4 linked regions of the Homo sapiens genome follow. The protein of the gene in region 2 purifies or fractionates together with the protein of the main gene of each other region. This does not show direct contact. Each region holds a gene or a part of one and is shown on either strand. Other genes may lie near its edges. The genes, in order: EFNB3, TBC1D22A, ACSL4 and FDXR.

Region 1 (3,711 bases), on a different chromosome or scaffold from region 2:
AATCTCTGGGGCCACGAGTTCCGCTCGCACCACGATTACTACATCATTGGTACTGCTGGGCAGAGGGCACGATTGAGTGGGGGGCTCCTGATACTGAGCAGAGAGGGAGGGGGACCCCTGCAGCCAAGAGGGAGATCCCAGTGCCCTCAGGCAGTGTTCACACCAGGGTGTGGGGCCAGAATCAGGGCTAGATTCTGGAGTGCCAACCTCTTCCTCTGGCTTTTCTCTCCCAGCCACATCGGATGGGACCCGGGAGGGCCTGGAGAGCCTGCAGGGAGGTGTGTGCCTAACCAGAGGCATGAAGGTGCTTCTCCGAGTGGGACAAAGTGAGTGGGGCTGGGGGACACCTCCTGGGCACGAAGGGACGTTGGGGCAGTACGATCATGGTTGGGGCAGTTGTCTCAGCCCCTCTCTGGGTCTTCCTCATCTCCAGGTCCCCGAGGAGGGGCTGTCCCCCGAAAACCTGTGTCTGAAATGCCCATGGAAAGAGACCGAGGGGCAGCCCACAGCCTGGAGCCTGGGAAGGAGAACCTGCCAGGTAGGAACCAGGGGCTAGGCCCCTGCCTTCCCCAGCTTCCTCTGCTCTCAGACCCCAGCTGCCCTGCCGTCACCCTCCCTCCCTCTTCAGTTTTGGGGGCGGTGATACAGGAAAGAGGAGAAGAGAGGATGGGAGGGTGGGAGGGGAATGGAAACCAAATGAGGAAAAGACTCAATTAGAACTAATTAGCCAAGTCAGTGCTTCAATCAGTGCTGTCAGAGAAGTGGGGAGGACTCCGTGGCAGGAAGCTGAAGGGCTGGACACCTGGATTCTGAGCAGAGTTCGGAGGGGGAGGAGAGATGGGGTCCCCAAGGGGCCTGGGCGCTACAAGGGAAGCCCATGGGGACCCCCAGGGTTGGGTGTCCAGGTGCCCAGGTGGCTCCTTCAGTCCCTCCCCCTCTTTCCTCCTTCACCCCTTCCCTGCCAGGTGACCCCACCAGCAATGCAACCTCCCGGGGTGCTGAAGGCCCCCTGCCCCCTCCCAGCATGCCTGCAGTGGCTGGGGCAGCAGGGGGGCTGGCGCTGCTCTTGCTGGGCGTGGCAGGGGCTGGGGGTGCCATGTGTTGGCGGAGACGGCGGGCCAAGCCTTCGGAGAGTCGCCACCCTGGTCCTGGCTCCTTCGGGAGGGGAGGGTCTCTGGGCCTGGGGGGTGGAGGTGGGATGGGACCTCGGGAGGCTGAGCCTGGGGAGCTAGGGATAGCTCTGCGGGGTGGCGGGGCTGCAGATCCCCCCTTCTGCCCCCACTATGAGAAGGTGAGTGGTGACTATGGGCATCCTGTGTATATCGTGCAGGATGGGCCCCCCCAGAGCCCTCCAAACATCTACTACAAGGTATGAGGGCTCCTCTCACGTGGCTATCCTGAATCCAGCCCTTCTTGGGGTGCTCCTCCAGTTTAATTCCTGGTTTGAGGGACACCTCTAACATCTCGGCCCCCTGTGCCCCCCCAGCCCCTTCACTCCTCCCGGCTGCTGTCCTCGTCTCCACTTTTAGGATTCCTTAGGATTCCCACTGCCCCACTTCCTGCCCTCCCGTTTGGCCATGGGTGCCCCCCTCTGTCTCAGTGTCCCTGGATCCTTTTTCCTTGGGGAGGGGCACAGGCTCAGCCTCCTCTCTGACCATGACCCAGGCATCCTTGTCCCCCTCACCCACCCAGAGCTAGGGGCGGGAACAGCCCACCTTTTGGTTGGCACCGCCTTCTTTCTGCCTCTCACTGGTTTTCTCTTCTCTATCTCTTATTCTTTCCCTCTCTTCCGTCTCTAGGTCTGTTCTTCTTCCCTAGCATCCTCCTCCCCACATCTCCTTTCACCCTCTTGGCTTCTTATCCTGTGCCTCTCCCATCTCCTGGGTGGGGGCATCAAAGCATTTCTCCCCTTAGCTTTCAGCCCCCCTTCTGACCTCTCATACCAACCACTCCCCTCAGTCTGCCAAAAATGGGGGCCTTATGGGGAAGGCTCTGACACTCCACCCCAGCTCAGGCCATGGGCAGCAGGGCTCCATTCTCTGGCCTGGCCCAGGCCTCTACATACTTACTCCAGCCATTTGGGGTGGTTGGGTCATGACAGCTACCATGAGAAGAAGTGTCCCGTTTTGTCCAGTGGCCAATAGCAAGATATGAACCGGTCGGGACATGTATGGACTTGGTCTGATGCTGAATGGGCCACTTGGGACCGGAAGTGACTTGCTCCAGACAAGAGGTGACCAGGCCCGGACAGAAATGGCCTGGGAAGTAGCAGAAGCAGTGCAGCAGGAACTGGAAGTGCCTTCATCCAGGACAGGAAGTAGCACTTCTGAAACAGGAAGTGGTCTGGCTGGAACTCCAAGTGGCTTAGTCTGGGGGATCAGGAGGTGGGAGGTGGATGGTTCTTATTCTGTGGAGAAGAAGGGCGGGAAGAACTTCCTTTCAGGAGGAAGCTGGAACTTACTGACTGTAAGAGGTTAGAGGTGGACCGAGAAGGACTTTTCCCAGTCTTCAGTGGCACTTCCCAAGATCTCCCTTCCCTTGTGCTCTGTGCTGATTTTAGGACAGCTAAGATGACTGCCATGTGCTGTGGCAGGCCTAATTTGTCTTGTTCTTTCCTTTCCATATCCCAGTATAATCTCTGTTAATCAACAGGACTACCCCAAGAACCCATGTGCTCTCCCGAGTAACCCAGATGGCTGTCTTGTTCATTCCATCCTACATTTCTGACTCCTTTCAGACTCAACACAGTTCCCTTCTTAGTGACCAAAATGGTGGCCTACTGGCTGGTCTAGCTGACAGTGGTACTTAGCAAAGGCCACTGTTTCCATAGTGACCAGCTGATACCTCTTCCTGCCCTCTAGTGTGCAATTGGGTGTTGCCTCAGTTTCCTCCCAGCTCAGTTTTATTAGATCAAAGCTGTTGTTGGGCACCAGGTTGGCCACCTCAATCACCAGCCAAGATGGTTGCTTTGTCCACCAGAGGTCAAGTTCACCTCTCTGGTGCTGTAGTTCCCAGCTCCTTCCTGATTTTTCTAATCGCTCCTTCTGGGGAACAGGAAGTTGATATTGCCATGGTGGCGGGGTATGCCGTCACCTCAGTAGTTTTACTGTAAAAGGGAAATTTGAACAACAAAAACCAAAAAAAATAAAAATAAAAAACTTCAAAAGTTGACAAGAAGGCTGGAGAATGACTGGACTTGAATTGGGACAAAGGCTTGGTTAGAATGGCTTTCAGCTGAGGGTTGGATTGCATGAAACCAACCAAGGGGGGTGGGTAGGGATAGGGCTAGTTTGGAGTGGTGAGGTTGGCAGTGCTTGGGGAGGCGAAAATGGGCTGGGCGAGAAGGCAGAGGAAGGTGTCACCTCTAGGGGAGGGAGAGAGTAATGCAGGCAGGAGTGGGGTCGCCAATTCATCCATGGGGACAGTCTGAGTGTCTTGCTAAGCCAAAGCACCAGAGACAGGGTAAGACGCAATTAGGATCAAAGTGGTAAAAACATGTTCACATGTTAAAGTCTATTCCCTACCATCCCTACCCAAGGCACTTGAGAAGTTTTGCTGTTGGGGACTCATGGGGAGAAGGGATGTGGCTGATCAGAAGGAAGTAGGAAGGACTCAGGGAGGGACCCAGGCATCAAGCTGCGTGTGCCCTGGCTCCCTGTATACCCATAACCGAGGCTCTTCTCCCCCAAAAAGCCCAGGTGCCCAGTCCCC
Region 2 (4,584 bases):
TCAGAGGGGTGTGGCGCACCTGGAAAGCTGCCCTGAGAAACTGAGGCCCTTTGAAGGGCCTTGCTTCAGTAACACAGGGCAAGGAGGGTGTTTCAGTGTGTGGGTGAGGGTGAGGCAAGTGTATCCCAGGAGAGGCGGGGGGGACCCCAGACCCTGGTGCCTACCCCGGAACAGCCCTTTTCAAAGCAGGTGCTTGACAGATGTGGCCCAAGGGGAGGTCCCTTGTTCAGGAGCCTGACAGGGGCCAGCCTGGACCCCACACTCCCGTGTTCCAGCTAGTGCAGAGCCGGGCTTCGGGGGTCAGACTGGTTTCTGAGTCTTGCCCCGCCCGGGCAAGTGGCATCCCTGCACCACCTGAGCAGCTGCAGCCCCATCTCCCTGAGAGGTCCTGCGGGGGGCAGCGAGATCACGGGTGCTGCCGGGCCCACGCTGGTGCGCCGCAATGGCCCTGAGCTCAGACCCTCGGCAGGGCTGGGCCAGGGTGCCCCTGTCCTCGATGGGCAAGTCCTCGAATCACAGGCCAAGGCCGCGGCTTTGTCACTGATCTTTATTCCGTGTTTTTAGCGCACCACATCCAGACAGCACACCCCGAACATTCCAGATGGATCTGCTCAGACTTAAGGCCCGCGGCCAACACCTCTCACATTCAGTCTTGGCGTTTACATACATGAGGAAATGCACACAGGGCTGAACTCCGTGGAGCTTCCTGTTTAAAACATCAACCACCTCGAGAAGCAGGTCAGTTGTGTCCGCAGCCTTCTGGCCACACGGCATGATCTGAGCTGGAGAAGGGGATCCTCCCAGGGCTGATCTCGGCAAAGCGACATGGGGCTTCCTGCACACGGCCGAGGGGCGGCTCTTCTTGTGACGGAATCCCCTCCCCATCTAGAAAAGGAGGCGGCAGGAGGAGGAGGCATGGCTGGTCTGAGGAACCCTTGACCCTGGGGTGGGGACACGGAAGGCAGGGGTAAGGCGTGCCCGCATCTGATGTGAAGCAAGCCCATCCCTTTGCTGGTTTGGGAGCATCTGACGTTTGCACAGCATTTTGTGCTAATTTCCATGCTGTGTGTAATGACCCTGGATTTTTAAAACAGAAGCAGAAACACACACATCACTTATGCCTGTATGTCCCACAGTCTCTGGCAGTGTCCTAGGGCCTGGGAGAGGACACGGCTGCTCCTGAGGGACAGAGGAGAGTCTGGGAAGTCAGTCACCAGTGGGTCGCTGAGGACGTGAGCCTGTCCTGGGCTCAGGGATCAGACAGACTGTGGCTGTGGCCCTGCCCGCATTCCAGGGGTCATGCAGCCTGTGACACACCGAGGGAACGCTGGGAAGCCAGTCCCAAGGCCCCTGGAGCCAAGGACACAGCCCTAGCAGGGCGCTGGGCAGGGACCAGCTCTGGGCCCTTCCGCACTTAGAGCCCCAAGGAACCAGTCCACAGCGGGAACCAGTCCAGGGCAGAACCAGTATACAGCGGGAACTGGTCCACGGCGGGAACCAGTCCACGGCAGAACCGGTCCAGGGCAGGAGTGGTCCAGGGCAGGAGTGGTCCATGGCGGAACCGGTCCATGGCGGAACCGGTCCACGGAGGAACCGGTCCATGGAGGAACCGGTCCATGATGGAACCAGTCACACCTCCCCTACACCTGGCAGACCTGGACAAGGACAGCAAGTCCCAGGAAGTCTCCAAAAGCTCATTCCGCTTCCAGGCTGCGGTGAGAAGAGCACTGTGGTTCAGGGCTTTGATGACAGGGACGCGACCCCCTGCCCGTCTGCCAGCCCAACATGGCCCGACAGCCTGGGTGGGCCTCCAGGGGCTCTGGCTGAGGCCGGCGCCTACCTGCGTGGCGGGGCCACTTGGCCCTGGACCTCAGGGAGGTGGGGGTTTCTCTCTTGTAAAAGAGGTTCAAGGTGGAAAGTAAGGCGATGGCGAGGCCTCCCTCTGCTCCCAGCCTTTGGTCCCACGGCCTCCCAGGCACTCGGCGGGCTCACGGCTTGGACTCCAGCCTTCAGCTTCCCAGCCACGTTTAAACCAAGCAAGCAGGAAAACACACGGAGGGAAAGGGCCAGCAGCAGTGAAATACAGCTGTGAGGGGACCTCGCGGCACAGAGACCCCGGGTCAGCGCAACGTCTCGGTCTAGATTTTGTCTACATTTTATTCTTTCACTCAACAGAATAGAAGTTTTGCATTTCAGAGTAGGTATGAGATGGCCACTACCTCGTTCCGGCCCTGGCACCCAGACAGCAGGACTCCAAAGAGGGTCGGCCTCCTAGGCTGCCCCGGACTAGGGGCAGCACGAGGCAGTCATTTGGCAAGGACATTGCAGGGAGAGGGAGAGGGGACCCCTGACCTGCCTCTGGCCGCCGAACCCGGGGCCCTCCCCTGGCTCTCTTTGGTATCTCAGAAAACAAAGGCTGTCCCTGTCTTTGTCAGCCCTAGACCAGGTCTGTGGCCCATCTTCACCAGCTCCCCTGGAGGGTGGGGCCACCTCACAAGGCCTTTTAGCAGCCCGGGACCAGCTCACAGGGGCCTACCACCAGCCAGGCAGGTGGGGCGCGCCACCCGGGACAGTGAGGCCAGCTGCGGGTGGGCCTGGGCTCATTTCTTGTAGTGATTGGGGGCGTCGGCAAAAGCAAACTTGAGGCGGTAGGCCTCGGCCAGCAACAGGCTGATGTCCTCATCATCCCAGTGGGCTGTGGGCAGGTTCTGGAGGAAGAGCAGCAGCTCCTGGGGAGAAAGAGACAAGCCCAGGTCAGAGGAGGTGACCCACGGTGGAGGGCGGGTGACCCCAGAAAACTGGAGGGAAAGATACAAGCCCAGGTCAGAGGAGGTGACCCACGGTGCAGGGCGGGTGATCCAGGAAAACTGGAGAGAAAGACACAAGCCCAGGTCAGAGGAGGTGACCCACAGTGGAGGGTGGGTGACCCAGGAAAACTTGCCCAGCCGGCAGCTGCTCCCTGCTCAACCCCAGAAGGGCCCCAGGCCTCGCCCCACGGCCACCGCCCCATCCCAGCAGCCAGGCAGGAGGCCCACTGCGCAGCTCCAAGTCCGGCATCTGAGATGTCGTGGCAGGGGCCGCCCAGAGCTTCATTTAACTGAATCCCCTGCCCCTCAGGGGGAGACCCAGCTCTCGGGGCCCTGCTGCAGCTTTGCAGCCTCCGCCCAGGAGCTTCCCACTCCCACAAAGCCTGTATCAGCCCAGGAAGTACCGCAGCACCCCTGGAACTGCCACTAAGCACAGATTTCTGTGCACCAGGAGACCCCTCCGGGCACCAGCACCATCAGCAGATGAAGCCCACACGAGGGGATCACAGAACGGAGCCGGCTCAGGCCCACCCCGGGAGCCCAGGAGCACAGCAAAGCGCCAACTGGCCCCTCCTGCATGACCACCTCACACCAGTGGGTTGGGGTGCAGGGCTCCACCAAACCCAGCTTCAGGTCTAGGTCCAACCTGGTGCCCTGGAACAATGACTCCACCCCGAGGCCCAGCTTCCTCCTCTGCAAAATGGGGCCACCATTTATTTATTTATTGCTTTCTAATGTGCTTATTTGCCTTAGACTGAGATTTAAAAATTAATTCCAGTTACAACCAAAGAAGGCCTTTCTGTGGAAGTGACATTTGATCAGACTCTTAAAATTCAGGTAGGATTCTCATAGGTAAAGATAGGAGGTAAAAGGTTTTACATAAAGGTGAATGACATGCATGTAAGTAGGAAAATAGGGAACTATAGGGAATAAGCAACAATTATAAGTCGTTCAGTGTGGATAAAATCATCTTACATGTGTATTTTTAAAATCTCGCCTCCTGTACCCTTCATTCTCCCATTCTACTTCCCAGTCACAGCATTTATTGCATTGAATTCACATAGTACAAATTTTTATTTACTGTAGTAAATTACTGTCAGGGCTGCTGGACAGACTGGGAAAACACACATACGGCCAGCAGTACAGCCAGCACTGGGTGGGCACACAGTGGGCTCCATGGGCATGCTAGGTAGACACACCAGGCTCACTGAGCGGGCACACTGGGTGGACACACAAGGCTCACTGGGCATGCTGGGTGGGAACACCGGGCGGGCACACCGGACTCACTGGGCTCACTGGGCACTCTGGGTGAGCACACAGCTCACTGGGAGTGCTGGGTAGGCTCACTGGGAGTGCTGGGTAGGCTCACTGGGAGTGCTGGGTAGGCTCACTGGGAGTGCTGGGTAGGCACACTGGGCTCACCGGGCGCACTGGGCAGGTGCGTTGGGCTTACTGGGAGTGCTGGGTGGGCTCCTCTGGCCTGCAGCTGGGCCGTGTCTCAGATGGGCTATGGGGGCACTGAGTCCCACCCCCAAAAGACACATGGGCGACTGTCTCCAGAGCTCATGGTCTGGAGGCCGGGATGCGGACACTGAGGAGATGGAGACTGACCTACGTCCACTGAGGCCACAACGGGGAAGGAAAAGCACAGGTCCTCGGGGGACCCCCCACGACCACCGCCTGACAGCCCCGCCCTCCCACATGACCACGCCCACATCCACAGCTGCTGGCAGCCCACCAAGGGCAGGGCAGGTCTCCGGGGACCCCAACACACAGA
Region 3 (7,040 bases), on a different chromosome or scaffold from region 2:
AGATAGTTGTAGATTCACATATAGTTGTAAGAAATAATACGCTTTATCTAATTTCCCCCAATAATAGCCTCATGCATAAGTATAGTGTAACATCACAACTACAAAATTGAAATCGATGCAATCCATCAACCTTACTCAGATTTCGTCACCTTTAATGCAGTCATTTGCATGTATGTATTTAGTTCTACATAATGTTATCACGTGTAGATTTATATAAGCACTACCACAGTCAAGATACAGAACAATTGCATCACCACAAGGATCCTTTTTGTTGTCTTTTTATAGATGTAGCCATCTCCCTTCATCCCTGACTCCTGGCAACCACTGATCTGTTTTTCATGTCTATAATTTTGTCATTTCAAAAATGCTTATATAAATGAATCACACAGTATATAACCTTTGGAGACTGACTTTACTTCACTCAGCATAATTCCTTGGAGATTAGTGCAAGGAATATACCTTTTATCAATGGCTTGTTCCTTTCCATTGCTGAGTAGTATTCCATAATATGGATTTACTGCAGTTTGTTTAACCAGTCACCTCTTGAAGGGCATCTGATGTTTCCAGGGTTTTTGTTTGTTTTACTTATTTATTTATTTATTTATTGCCTATTTTGAATAAAGCTCATATGAACAGTTGTCCACAGGATTTTGTGTGAACATAAATTTCTGAAATGCCTGAGAGTGTACTTCTTGGGTGGTATAGCACTTGCATGTTTAGTTTTCTAAGGAACTGCCAAACCATTTTCCAGAGTGGCTGTACCATTTTACATTCCCACCAGGAATGTGTGAATGCTCCTCATCCTTGACAGCATTTGGTGCTGTTACTATTTTTTATTTTAGCCATTCTCATAGGTGTGTAGTAATATATCCTCCTAGTTTTAATTTGCATTTTTCTGATCGCCAATGATGTTGATCATTTTTCCATGTGTTTATTTGCCATTCTCTGTATCTTCAGTGAAATATCAGTTCATGTCTTTTGTCCATTTTCTATTTGGATTTTTTTTTTAACCTGGTGAGTTTTAAGAGTTTTTTATTATTTTTTTGAGACGGAGTCTCGCTCTGTTGCCCAGGCTGGAGTGCAGTGGTGCAATCTCACTGCAAGCTCTGCCTCCCAGATTCACGCCATTCTCCTGCCTCAGCCTCCCAAGTATCTGGGACTACAGGCACCCGCCACCACACCTGGCTAATTTTTTTTTTTTTTTGTATTTTTAGTAGAGACAGGGTTTCACCGTGTTAGCCAGGGTGGTCTCGATCTCCTGACCTCATGATCCACCCGCCTCGGCCTCCCAAAGTGCTGGGATTACAGGCGTGAGCCACCGCCCCTGGCCTTTTTATTCTTAATACTAATCATTTGTCAGGTAGTGGTATGAAAATATGTTCTCCCAGTCTGTAGCTTGTCTTTCCAACCTCTTCACAGGGAATTTCACAGAGCAAAAGGCTTTAATTTGGATGAGGTCCAGTTTATTAATTTTTCCTCTATGGACTGTGCTTTTGGTGTCAAGAAATCTTACAAACTTTTGTTATTTAATTTGATTCCTTTCTGTTCTGTATAACATCCATTATTTCTGTAAGCTATTTGAGCATTTTCTCTTTCAACAATTTTAGAGCTCAAATATATTCTGTGAACAAGTGGCCTTAATGGCTTAGAATGTTAATACATATTCACACATGCTCTCACTATATTAAAATGGCTGCCTTAAAAATATAATGTCTACCTCACCAGGCTGTCAAATGCAACATTAAAATTTGTATTTTAAAATTAAATAGACGCATGATATGCTAAAGAGGTTTTTGGTTTCACTTTCTAAATTAAAAATATTTTGGCAAAACTGTATCATTTTCCATCAAGGATTTTGGTAAGTAATCCAAAAAACAAATTTGTGTTCTTATTTAAATGTACTTTGAAAGTCTACTTCTGCATTTTGAGTAGTGAAGTTATGATTCATGACCATGTATTTAGCAGACTTTTCTACTCACTGTTGATTATGAGAATAATGAATAAAAGATCATTGTATTTGACTGTCTAGACTGCATTTTTCCTTTTATAGCAGCTACATGACACTCATTGTAACTGTCTTTTGAAATAAATATTAGGTTCAAGGTGATGTTTACAGTTTTATATTTTGAAAAATGTATGTGCTCATATGAGAAGGAATTATAGGAAAAGGTTAGTGATTAATTTTGAGAATATTCATTTCTGTAAGGCAGTACTGAAATTATTTGTCCCTTCAGTGTTACTATATTTACTCAAATATGTGTGCAGTGAGGGAAGTAGATTGTTATTTGAAAAAGATAAAACATTGGTATAAGGCAGGGGCTGGCAAAATACTGCCTGTGGCCAAATCCTGCCCACCACCGGTTTTTGTAAATAAACTTCTCTTGGAATATAGCCACATCCATTAATTTATGTGTTTTCTGGCCGCATTCACAATACAACATCAGAGCTGAAACAGAGCCCTTATGTCCCGTGAAGCCAATTTTCTCTCTGGACCTTTACAGAAAAAGTGCTGACCCCAGAGATAAGGTAACCTTATAAATTGTTGATTACACACACACACACACACACACACACACACACACACACACACACACACACACAATTTAACAAACTACCCTGACTTTTTATACCTTCTGGTTACATTTCCAGGTGATATTGTGATTCAGGAGAGTGCATTCATTTTCTTTACTAAGTCTCCAAAGCACTGTGGTCTAGGAGCAGCAATAAGGAATGCATAGAGAGTTGAGACGGTTGATTTTGTTGTTAAGTGTGGGTTATTTAAATGTGAATGTGAATTTACATGTGTGGCAATCAGTAAGCTGCAGATAGACTTCTATGCAGTCTATGATGTCTTTTGGAGACCCTGTTGTGAGCTGTAGCGGTAATAAGAGAGCCAGGCATGGTAGTGTTTTTGCTCCTGAAACTGCTATGTGATCTTTAAGTACATAGTAGTAAGAGCCTATCAAACTGAGCTTAGACTGTTGGTTTATTATTTTGTTTGTACAACTTCCTTTTTTATAACGAAGCAGTTGACACTTTAGTTCTTTTAAGTGTTCTAAGTGTAATGTTGAAAATGGAAATTGAGTAAAGACAGGTGGCTGTGTATTTAGAAAGTAATAAGTCTCCATCTCTCATCATACACAAAAATAACTTAAGAATATATTTTAAAAATCTAAGTATATATTTTAAAAAATCTTCTGGAAAGTGTAAGACATCATAACCCAGTTAAAAAGACAAGTGATGGCCGGGCACTGCAGCTCACGCCTATAATCCCAGCACTTTGGGAGGCCAAGGTGGGAAGATTGCTTGAGCCCAGGAGTTTGAGACCAGCCTGGACAACATAGTGAGACCCTGTCTCTAAAAAAAAAACAAAAAAAACAAAACAACAACAACAACAACAAAAAACAACAAAAAAAGCCAGGCATGGTGGCATGTGCCTGTAGTCTTTGCTACTCCAGAGGCTGAAGTGGGAGGATCCCTTGAGCCTGGGAGGTCGAGGCTGCAGAGAGCTATGATTGCACCACTGCACTCTGGCCTGGGTGATAGAGCGAGACCCTGTCTCAAAAAATAAATAAATAAAATAAATAAAAATGAAAAAGCTTCTACATATGCATTAGAAGCTTTAATTGACCTCCACTTAATTGACTCACCACATTGAATAATTTTTATTTCCTTTGTAAAATACAGTGTACACTGAATACTTGGTATTAGTTGGTTGATCTCCAGTACTCCAGCGTGCTTGTTTACCTACCAGTACAGTAAATTTTTTTACTACTAAACCTGTATATGTTGGTTGTATTTGTTTTTTTGTTTGTTGGTTGGTTTGTTTGTTTTTGAGATGGAGTTTTGCTCTTGTTGCCCAGGCTGGAGTGCAATGGTGCAATCTCGGCTCACTGCAACCTCTGCCTCCTGGGTTCAAGCAATTCTCCTGCCTTAGCCTCCCGAGTAGCTGGGATTATAGGTGCCCACCACCATGCCTGGCTAATTTTTTTTGTATTTTTAGTAGAGACGGGGTTTTGCCATGTTGGCCAGGCTGGTCTTGAACTCCTGACCTCAGGTGATCCACTTGCCTCAGCCTCCCAGAATGCTGGGATTACAGGCGTGAGCCACCGTGCTAAGCCTGCTTGTATTTGTTTTTAAAAGGTAATTTGTTTAATATGTTGTAACCTGACAATATATGAGTGGGGGAGATTGGAGTTCTTTTTACTGAAAATTTACAAATGAAATAATATGATGTCTGGGATTTGCTTAACATTATACAAGGGGTGAGGGATGGAGGTGGGTTGTGGGTAGTATGGAAGAAACACAATTCAGCACATATGAATAACTGTTGAAGCTGGGTGATGGTTACATTAGATTCATTATGATGAAACAAATTGTTTTGAGAAGAGTTAATGAAAACAAGTTGCAAAAAAAAATACTGTCCGCTTAAATGTGGGTAAGATGACTATACAAGATACGTGGAAAAAATATAAAAATCTAAAAGAGTTTTATTTTATTTTATTTTATTTTATTTTTTGAGATGGAGTCTCGCTCTTTTGCCCAGGCTGGAGTGCAGTGGCGTGATCTCGGCTCACTGTAAGCTCCACCTCCCGGGTTCACGCCATTCTCCTGACTACAGGCGCCCTCCACCACACCTGGCTAATTTTTTTGTATTTTTAGTAGAGACAGGGTTTCACCGTGTTAGCCAGGATGGTCTCGATCTCCTGACCTCGTGATCCGCCCGCCTTGGCCTCCCAGAGTGCTGGGGTTATAGGTGTGAGCCACCGCACCAGCCATCTAAAAGGGTTTTATACTCACATTACTTGTCAAATGTAAAATCAATGGGCCTGGAGTTAGAGAAAAAGGTCTTGGCCTCTTGGCCCCATATAGAAAGTTTGAGGCTGGCATGGTGGCTCATGCTTGTAATCCCAACATTTTAGGGGGCCAAAGCAGGAGGATTGCTTGAAGCCAGTTCAAGACCAGCCTGAGCAACATAGCAAGACCCTGTCTCAAAAAAAAAAAAAAAAAATAGCTGGGTGTGGTGGCACACACCTGTAGTCCCCAGTCACTCAGGAGGCTGAGACAGGAGGATTGCTTGAGGCCAGGAGTTCAAGGTTGCAGTGAGTCATGATCACACCACTGCATTCCAACCTGGGAGACAGAGTGAGATCCTGTCTTTAAATAAAAAAACAAAACAAAACAAAAACAAAAAAAACCCCAGGTCAGGTACAGTGCGTCATGCCTGTAATCCCAGCACTTTGGAAGGCCAAGGCAGGCAGATCTCTTGAGGCCAGGAGTTTGAGACCAGCCTGGGCAACATGGTGAAACCCCATCTCTACAGAAAATTTTTATTATTATTATTATTGAGACGGAATCTCGCTCTGTCGCCCAGGCTGGAGTGCAGTGGCATGATCTCGGCTCACTACAACCTCCGTCTCACAGATTCAAGCGATTCTTCTGCCTCAGCCACCCGAGTAGCTGGGATTACAGGTGCCCACCACCACACCCGGCTAATTTTTGTATTTTTAGTAGAGATGAGGTTTCGCCATGTTGGCCAGGCTGGTCTCAAACTCCTGACCTCAAGTGATCTGCCTGCCTCAGCTTCCCAAAGTGCTGAGACTACAGGCGTGAGCCACCACGCCTAGCCCAAAAAATACAAAAATTTAGTTGGGCATGGTGCCATGTGCCTATGGTTCCAACTACTGGGGAAGCTGAGGTGGGAGGATTGCTTGAGCCCAGTAGGTGGAGGTTGTAGTGAACTATGATCACTCACGTCATTGCATTCCACCCTGGGTGACAGAGTGAGACCTTGTCTCAAAAAAACAAAAACAAAAATTAGCCAGGCATGGTGATGCACAACTGTAGTCCCAGATACTTGGGAGGCTGTGGCAGGAGGATAGCTTGTGCCCGGGAGGCAGAGGTTGCAGCGATCCAAGGTCACTCCACTGCATTCCAGCCTGGGCATCAGAGCAAAACCCTGTCTCAGAAACAAACAAAAAAACAAAAAAGCCCCCCAAAAATAAATAAACCAAAACCACACACACACAAAGTTTGTTGAATGAGTATATATATACCACTGATGAAAGGAAGGTGAAATGTTTGCCATACATATTTTTATGATCGTTTACCTGAAATTAACCTTTTAAATTACATAACCAATTGTTCTAAATCACATTAGATAAAAGGGTTTCTACTGCATAATATCCATAATATATAAAGAGCTCCTAAAGATCAATAAGAGAAAGGTACCCACTACAAAAAGCAAAAAGTGGCAGAAGATTATACATGGGCATTTCCCAGGAAAAGAAGTACTGGTGAATAAAAAAGAAAAGATGTTCAAATTGACTCTGGTTATTAGGGAAATGTAAACCGTTTTTCACCAGACAGATTGGCAAGAACTTAATATCCACTTTTAACAAATAGGCATTTGCATACACTGTTAATGAGAGTTCACATGTATAACTCTTTGCTGAAGAATACCAAAATCATCTCATTTTTAAATGTGCATACATTTTGACCCAATAGTTTTATTAGAAAACAATTCTAGGGAAATATTACATGTGTATAAAACTATGTATAAGGTTTCGCTGCAGTGAAACTGTTTGTAACTGTGAAAATTTGGCAGTATCCTAAATATCCATCAGTAGGGAATGATTTAAATAATGGTAAGTTATACTGTGGAATACCATTGAGTTATTAAATAAAAAAAGAAGAAAAGCCTCTTGGTTAGACATATATATACACTGACATAGGAGTTCCAAAGTATGCTGTTAAGCAGGGGAAGAGAGGGGGAGGGAGTCAAAGAACAGTTGTATACCATAATTCCACTTATCTAAAAATAAACCCTTATCATGTGTATGGGTAATACAAAACAATCTGATTGATACACATCAAGAGTAATTATCCCTAGAGGAAAAGAGAGTGGTGTTAGAGGAGGGCAGTATAGTTTTACTTTTTCTCTGTACAATTCTATATTATATATTATAATTTACAATTACAATTTTGATAGTAGGTATGCAGATTACTATTATAGCAAAATACAATTACTATTTTGATAG
Region 4 (7,520 bases), on a different chromosome or scaffold from region 2:
AAGCAAGAGGCACGACACCTGCTTTGCAGGTTGTCATGAGGATGCTACGAGATGCTGTGCTCAGTGCCTGACTCAAGCTAAGGGCCACTGTCCCAAACGTGCTGCATGTGGTCCTGTCTTAGGAGCACAGCCAGTAGCTTGGAGCTCCCTGTGGGCAAAGATCAGCCCAAGGATCAGAACAAGGATTGTACCTGGCCTGAGCCCCTCCCCATCCCATTCCACAAGGAAAGCATGTGCACGTGTCTGCCAGCTGAATACAGTCGTGCTAAGAACACTGCCTGGCCGGGCGCGGGGGCTCACGCCTGTAATCCCAGGACTTTGGGAGGCCGAGGTGGGCAGATCACTTGAGGTCAGGAGTTCAAAACCAGCCTGATCAACATGGTGAAACCCTGTCTCAACCAAAAATACAAAAATTAGCTGCATGTGGTGGAGTGCGCCTGTAATCCCAGTTACTCAGGAGGCTGAGGCAGGAGAATCGCTTGAACTTGGGAGATGGAGGTTGAAGTGAGCTGAGACTGTGCCACTGCACTCCAGCCTGGGCGACAGAGCCAGACTCCATCTCAAAAAAAAAAAAAAAAAAAAAAGAACACTGCCTGGAAAGCTTACTCTCCTCCCTTCCAAAATGTCAGGATCAGCTAAAAAAAAACTGTCCCTTATACAAAGCCCTTCAGGGCCTCTCCAGCCCCCATGTGCTCCCTGATCTCCATCCCAGAGCCCAGGCTGTCCTCCCTCCCACATGGCAGCGTGCCCAAGGCCTTGCATTCCAGGATGACTCCCCACATGTGGGAGGCCCTCACCAAAGCCCTTGGTCTGCTTCAAGGCAGCTCAAATGCACTGTCTCTCTTTTTTTTTTTTTTTTTTTTTTTGAGACAGGGTCTCACTCTGTCGCCCAGGCTGGAGTACAGTGATTTGATCTTGGCTCAGTGCTACCTCCACCTCCTGGGTTCAAGCGATCCTCCCGACTCAGCCTCCCAAGTACCTGGGACTACAGACCTGTGCCACCACACGTGGCTGATTTTTCTATTTTTAGTAGAGATGGGGTTTCACCACGTTGGCCAGGCTGGTCTCAAACTCCTGACTTCAAGTGATCCACCTGCCTTGGCCTCCCAAAGTGCTGGGATTACAGACATGAGCCACCTGGGCTTCCGGCCCAGGAAACAGTTTCTGATTGACCCCACCTGCCTCGGCTCACGCTGCCCACATTATTGTAATTAGCTCTTTCACCCGTGTTGCCTGGGAAGCATGCACGGGTCACTTTTCAGCAGAGTGATCAACTCATCCCAGTTTCCCAAGAACTTCCAGCTTAGCGCTGAAGCCCCTTGTCCTGGGCAGTCCAGGCCAGTTGGTCACCCTACATTTCAAGCATCTGTGTGTGTGTGTATAATTAAGATATTCATCCTTTCTCTTGTCTCTCCACGGACACTCCAAGCCTCTCCAAAGCTAGGCAACTGTCTCACGTCTCAGTTAACCTGGGTATCCCCTCTCTACTCTGTCCCAAAGTCTGATGTGGAGTCTCAAGTAGAACCTGTAGCCTTGGCTTGGGGCCCTTCCTGCCGAGGCAGACACTGAAAGCCTTGAGATCCTGGCCTTCACAGGGGAAGGGGGAGGGGCAGAGGGCAGGCTGAAAGAACAGAATGGCACGGAGGACTGGAGCTATGGGTGAGGAGGGCATGGCAAGGCAGGTAAAGTTACAGAAAGCGGAGGAGGTGGGTAGCCTCGAGATGTAGGATGTTTGGGATAGAGTGAAGATAGACGAGAGAGGAGGGAAGATGAAGGAGGACAAAGTCATTTTGCAGGTCTACATAAGCCCCCTGGAGTGCTTGGCCAGGGAGGCAAAGCTGACCACCTGCCACTGACCACTCACCACCAATGTGCGTTTTACACCCCTGTCACACTGAGGACGGGAGGGGAGGGGAGCCTCAGGTGTAGGTGAGGAAGCAAGTGGGAAGTGTCCAGGCCAGATGGCTGGGAGCCCCTTCCCCATAAGGCAACCAGGAGTGCTCTTAAAACCCAAAGCGGGTGAGGCTTGCCCTTAGGACTGGAGCAGCAGGTGAATGATGGACTATGAGTAAGTGGCTTACCTTTAGCAGGTGTTGGGCCGTGTAGAAGCCAGCTGGGCCACTGCCCACCACACAGATCTGGGGGGTCTTCTCCTGTGTGGAGAAATGGTGGCAGAAGCCTGGGGCCAGGCAGAGGAGAGGGAAAAGGTCAAAATTAACTTCTCTCCCCAGTCCCAAACCAACCTGAATATCCAACAGAAGCTGGAACTTCCCAAGCTTCACCCTCACCTGCATCCTCCTTCTCTTGTTCCTCAAGGCTTTGGCATTTGCAGGGTCTCTTACTTCATCTGAACCCCCAAAGGCTGTGGGTTCATCCAGAGCCCACATCTCACCCATGAACCTACTACACCACTGCCAATGGCCTGCCCAACAACACTTCATTCCCTATCCAATCGGCTAGAATCCCACATCCTTCCAACGGCCTCCATATCATCCCAATCTCGCCCCCGTGGGTCTCCCCACGGTGTCCCTCCTCTAACCCCTCTCTCTCTCCACAAAACGCTATATTGCCCATATAGACCCGTCTTATTCCTACAGATCCCTGTTTCGACTCAGACTTTCCTCTCGCCCCACAGACCTCCGTATCATCCTCCATTCACCCCGTCTCACACCTGTAGATCTCAAAGTCTCTCCTTTTCACCTTTGTTGACCTCCGTCTCTAACCCTAGAAGCCTCACATCTCACGCACAGATCTCCGCCCACCCCCGTACACCACCGGGATCTCGCCAGCAGGAAGACACCCCTTCAGTCTCACCCTTCTCCAGCCCTGCCCCAGCTCTGCTCCGACCCCTACTCAGCGCTCGCAGGCCTCCCCGCGCTCCCATCCAGCCCCAAAGGCGCCCTGCTCCTACTCGGGGTGCTCCCGGCGGGAGGCAGCCGGGTCCGAGGCCACGCCGACCAGCCCCACCAGCGCCAGCAGCGCGAAGCCATGGCTGGGAGCAGCAACCTGCAAGTGGATCTGTTCCTAGCTACTGCTCCGCAGGGCAAGCCCGCTCCTGCCCGGGCCCGCCCACAAGCGAGGCCCCGCCCCAAACCCCGCCCCCTGCGCTCCGGGAAAGCGGAGCCTTGCGGCTCCACCCCGACTCCCGAGAGAATCCCGCCCCCAAAAGAGAGACCCGCCCTTAACTACGCCCCACCGTCGAAGCCCCGCCCCTCGGAGCATCCGGGGTATACGCGATTTAATACATTTCTCCCCAGGCCTCACCTTCCCTCCAAATCCCGGAAGCCTAGGGTTGGAAGAGAGCGAATCCCCATCGCTGTTTCAGTCCCTCCCCAAGGAAACAGCCACTAAGAAAGGAGCTTATTTTACTTAGCCGCGCCCCTCTCGGGAGGCTCTCGTCGCTCACTGATGACGCAGACGCCCTTGCCATTTGATTGCGAATCCTCCCACGTGACTTCGTCCTAGCCAATCACGAGTCCGGCTCCAAGCGAGCCTTCCCGCCGTTGGGAAATAACCAGAGTGCGGAAGTCTGGGGCGAGGGAGCTCCTTCCCGGAGCCCAGCAGCCTCCTTCTTCGACCCCGGGTGTTGTGCCGATGTAACCCCTCAAATCCCCGTCTTTGCCGGGCCAGGGAGAATATTAAACCCTGGAAAGCTCGTCCCACCTCACCTCCTTTCCCATTACATAGGTGAAGAAAAGCGGGGCGGGGCAGTGGCTTACGTATGGTACTAAGGACAGAGCGTCCGACCCCCGTGCAGCCGAGCCGGGACCAGAGTTGAGGTACTCCCCTCGGGTTCAGAATTTAAGGGGGCTCCAAAACACTCAGTAATCAAGATAAATATAATACTGCAACGTTTTAAAAGGTCAAAAGTAATGCAAAAAGTCTATGATCAAAATGTTTTTAAAAATAAGGACAGGATCCGTAGTCACAGCTGACCCAATAAGCCTAACCCCTCTTCCTTTTCCCCATGGGCCCTCTTGTCAAATATTACTTCCTTGGAGAAGCCTTTTCTCTGACCCGTCCCCTCCCAAGTTCCAAGGAGTTAAAGGCCTCTCATTCCACAGCATCTGACCTTATCCCATCATGACTTACTACACTGGTTGTCGTTTTTAATGAGATTTTAAATTCAATAATAACATACAGAAAAGTGCACAAATCATGAGTGTACAACTTGACAATATATCACAAGGTGTAACCATATAACCACCACCCAGATCAAGAAATAAAACATGGCCAGTATCCCAGGAGTCCTCTGTGCCCTTACTGGTCACTTCCCCTCCCTCCCACTGGTAAGTAAATGCTGTCTGCTTTCTAATAGGTCACTGTGTTTTATGCCTGTCCCACTAGACCAGGAGTAGGCAAACTATAGCTTGCAGGCCAAATACTGTCCACCAGCATGTTTTGGATGACCAACAAGAATGGCTTTTACTGTTTTTGTTTTTTTGGAGGTTTTGGGGTTTTTGTTTTTGGTTTTGATTTTGTTTTTTGAGACAGGGTCCTGCTCTGTCACCCAGGCTGGAGTGCAGTGGTGCTCACTGCAACCTCTGCTTCCTGGCTTGGCTCAAGCGAGCCTCAGGCCTCAGCCTCCGGAGTAGCTGGGACCACAGGTGCCTGCCACCACGCCTGGTTCATTTTTGCATTTTTTGTGGAGATGGGGTTTTGCCATGTCACCCAGGCTGGTCTCGAACTCCTGAACTCAAAGCGATCCTCCCACCTCGGCCTTCCAAAGTGCCAGGATTACAGGAGTGAGCCACCACACCCAGCTTGTTTTTATATTTTTAATGGTAAAAAACAACATTTTGTGACACGTAAAAATTACATGAAATTCAGACTTCAGTTTGAATAAAACTTTATTGGAAGACATCCATGCTTACTTCTTTACATATTGTCTATGGCTATATTTGTGCTTTGATGGCACAATTGAGTAGTTGTAACAGAGATCATATGGTTCGCAAAGCCCCAGATATTTACTATCTGGTCCTTTACAGAGTTTGACCACCCCTGCACTACATTATAAGCTCCATGAGGATGGGGACCCAGTCTCAGCTCTTATACCCCCAGGGCTTCACACACTGGCTAGCACATAATGGAAGTTCGTACAATCGAAAAAGTTCTGTAGGGCTCCCCATCTAGAGGCAGTATATCTGGTGGTGGAGGATGGATTCTAGAGTCAGACAACATTGGGTCTGAATCCCTCTTCCTCCACTTACTAGCTATATGACATTGAGAAATTTAATCTCTCCAGGACTTTTTTTCACTGTCTGTAACATTTGGGGGAAATATGAATAGTGGCAATTTGTTGTAGACATTAAAATCAGATGATGAGGTCAAGACAACTTCCATAAATGCTAGATAAACATTAGCTATTATTATCATCATCCATATGTATTATGACCTCCCATATGTCTCTGTAGATTAGACCTTAAGTCTCTGCAGAGATCTGGATATACTTCATTCACTCCTGTCACCTCCCTCACCTCTCAGGCCTCAGAAATTCCCAGCCCACATCCTAAGTGAAACAGAAAATGGAGCCTCAAAGCAATCGAGTGACTTGTTCCCATGATACCCATGGTACAGCCAGATCTGGCACCAGTGCCTTCAGCTGCTGCCCATACCCCAGTCAGGTCCAGATCAATAACAATGAGTCATTGGTTATGTATTTGGATGGTTTTAATCATGAGCCAGGACTGTGCAACTGGGGCCTTTTCTGCCACTGCGTTTCTCAAATGGAGAATTAGCAGTTTGATTAATTACACCCCTAGATCTCAAGGCCATTTCTAAGCTGCTAATGCATTTCCAAGGAGCAGCAATAACATATAGCAAAGCAGTGGGCTGGGGAGCCGCCAAGCCTGCCTCGTGCCAAGAGGGCTGCCTGGATCCAAAACTCCACTCTATCAGTCAACCTTCTAGCAAGAAACAGATGGCACACTCAAAAGGCGTGATTGAGGACAGTTTAATGAAGGAGTTTGTATACAGAGGTGTGAGCAGGGTGAAGGGAATGGAGAAGCACCCCAGGCTAGCAACAGCTGGAAACCACTACCACCGCAAGCCTGGAGGGAGCTGTTTCAGAACTAGTGAGAGTCTGTAGCTATGGAAAAGGGTGTCTAAAGGAACTGCGGTCTTTGGTAAAGGAAGGTGTGGTGGAGATGAATGGAGAGTGCACATAAAAGAACCAGTGGCCTCTGTGCAGCTGCCTAAGGCCACACCACAGAGGGGCTCTCCAACGGAACAAGGCTCAGGGAATGCCTGTGCCTGTAGCCAGACCCCTCTGCCCATCCCCCAGGCTCCCATTTGCCGGCAGTTTGTCTCCCTATCAGCAGGGTCAGGAGGCCTTTCACTCTATCCAAGGCCTTCACTGAAAAACAAGGCAATTACACGCTCAGAGAATGACTTGCATGTTCTCAACTGGGTCAACTCAGCAATGTCTGGAGACATTTTTGATTGTCACAACTTGAGCTCCCAGCATCTAGTAGGTAGAAGCCAGTGACGCTGCTAAACATCCAACAATGCACAGGACAGCCCCCAACAACACAGAATTGGCCAGATAAAATGTCAGTAGTGACTGGGCATGGTGGCTCACACCTGTAATCCTAGCACTTTGGGAGGCCAAGGTGGGTGGATTGCCTGGGCTCAGGAGTTCGAGACCAGCTTGGGCAACATGGTGAAACTCCGTCTCTACTAAAATACAAAAAATTAGCCAGGCATGGTGGCAGGCTCCTGTAGTCCCAGCTACTCGGGAGGCTGAAGCAGGAGAATCGCTTGAACCTGGGAGGCAGAAGTTGCAGTGAGCTGAGATCATGCCACTGCACTCCAGCCTGGGCGACAGAGCGAGACTCCATCTCCATAAAAAAAAAAGTCAATAGTGCCAAGGTGAGAGACCCTGTTTTCAACTAATGGGTCTGGCCTCCTTCTCTGTCTCTCCCTCAGCCTCCACCTGGGCACTTCCTAGCACCCTCCCAGTCCAGCCCCCAGCTGGGGCAGCTCCCAGCCCTCTCTCAATACTACCCACTGTGGGCTGAATCTCAGTGGTGTCCCCCAGCACCTTGGTCTCTTCCTCTGCCTGGCATTGGTAGTTCCCTTATATTCCCACCTCACTCCCAGGCTGCAGACCATCCTTCCACAGCCCTGCCCAGCCCTGACTTCAGGCTCTTCTATCTGCACCCCACCCTCCTCCCATTCCTCTCTGAGGTCATCCGTCCTCCGGACCCTGTTCCCAGTACCCCCTCCAGCCCCAGCCCCCTCCTACAAATTCTTCTCTCTCCCAGTAGATGATCCCCAGGTTCACTTCTAAACATCACAGAACAAACTGTTTGAACTAGCCAAGGTCACATTCAAAGTTATTTATTCTTTTTTTTTTTTTTGAACGGGAGTCTTATTTTTTATTTTTTTATTTTTTTGAGATGGAGTCTCGCTCTGTCACCCAGGCTGGAATGCAATGGTGCAATCTTGGCTCACTGCAACCTCCACCTCCCGGGTTCAGGTGATTCTTCTGCCTCAGCCTGCCAAGTAGCTGGGACTAC

The links.
Region 1: the proteins of TBC1D22A (region 2) and EFNB3 purify together in Homo sapiens (affinity purification with mass spectrometry; 3 studies listed by BioGRID and IntAct, with this or other methods). This does not show direct contact.
Region 3: the proteins of TBC1D22A (region 2) and ACSL4 purify together in Homo sapiens (affinity purification with mass spectrometry; 3 studies listed by BioGRID and IntAct, with this or other methods). This does not show direct contact.
Region 4: the proteins of TBC1D22A (region 2) and FDXR purify together in Homo sapiens (affinity purification with mass spectrometry; 3 studies listed by BioGRID and IntAct, with this or other methods). This does not show direct contact.

What each region holds. Positions count from the first base shown.
Region 1 is NC_000017.11:7,708,202-7,711,912, forward strand, and holds the end of EFNB3 (ephrin-B3 precursor), read left to right. Parts: coding exon 1-49; intron 50-233; coding exon 234-326; intron 327-433; coding exon 434-538; intron 539-965; coding exon 966-1,375; 3' UTR 1,376-3,171; downstream 3,172-3,711. UniProt on the Homo sapiens protein: Cell surface transmembrane ligand for Eph receptors, a family of receptor tyrosine kinases which are crucial for migration, repulsion and adhesion during neuronal, vascular and epithelial development.
Region 2 is NC_000022.11:47,171,643-47,176,226, reverse strand, and holds the end of TBC1D22A (TBC1 domain family member 22A), read right to left. Parts: intron 2,730-4,584; coding exon 2,601-2,729; 3' UTR 534-2,600; downstream 1-533. UniProt on the Homo sapiens protein: May act as a GTPase-activating protein for Rab family protein(s).
Region 3 is NC_000023.11:109,723,219-109,730,258, reverse strand, and holds part of ACSL4 (long-chain-fatty-acid--CoA ligase 4), read left to right. Parts: intron 1-7,040. UniProt on the Homo sapiens protein: Catalyzes the conversion of long-chain fatty acids to their active form acyl-CoA for both synthesis of cellular lipids, and degradation via beta-oxidation. Preferentially activates arachidonate and eicosapentaenoate as substrates.
Region 4 is NC_000017.11:74,869,955-74,877,474, forward strand, and holds the start of FDXR (NADPH:adrenodoxin oxidoreductase, mitochondrial isoform 1 precursor), read right to left. Parts: upstream 3,041-7,520; 5' UTR 2,991-3,040; coding exon 2,912-2,990; exon of another isoform or gene 2,815-2,911; intron 2,363-2,814; coding exon of another isoform or gene 2,244-2,362; intron 2,180-2,243; coding exon 2,082-2,179; intron 1-2,081. UniProt on the Homo sapiens protein: Serves as the first electron transfer protein in all the mitochondrial P450 systems including cholesterol side chain cleavage in all steroidogenic tissues, steroid 11-beta hydroxylation in the adrenal cortex, 25-OH-vitamin D3-24 hydroxylation in the kidney, and sterol C-27 hydroxylation in the liver.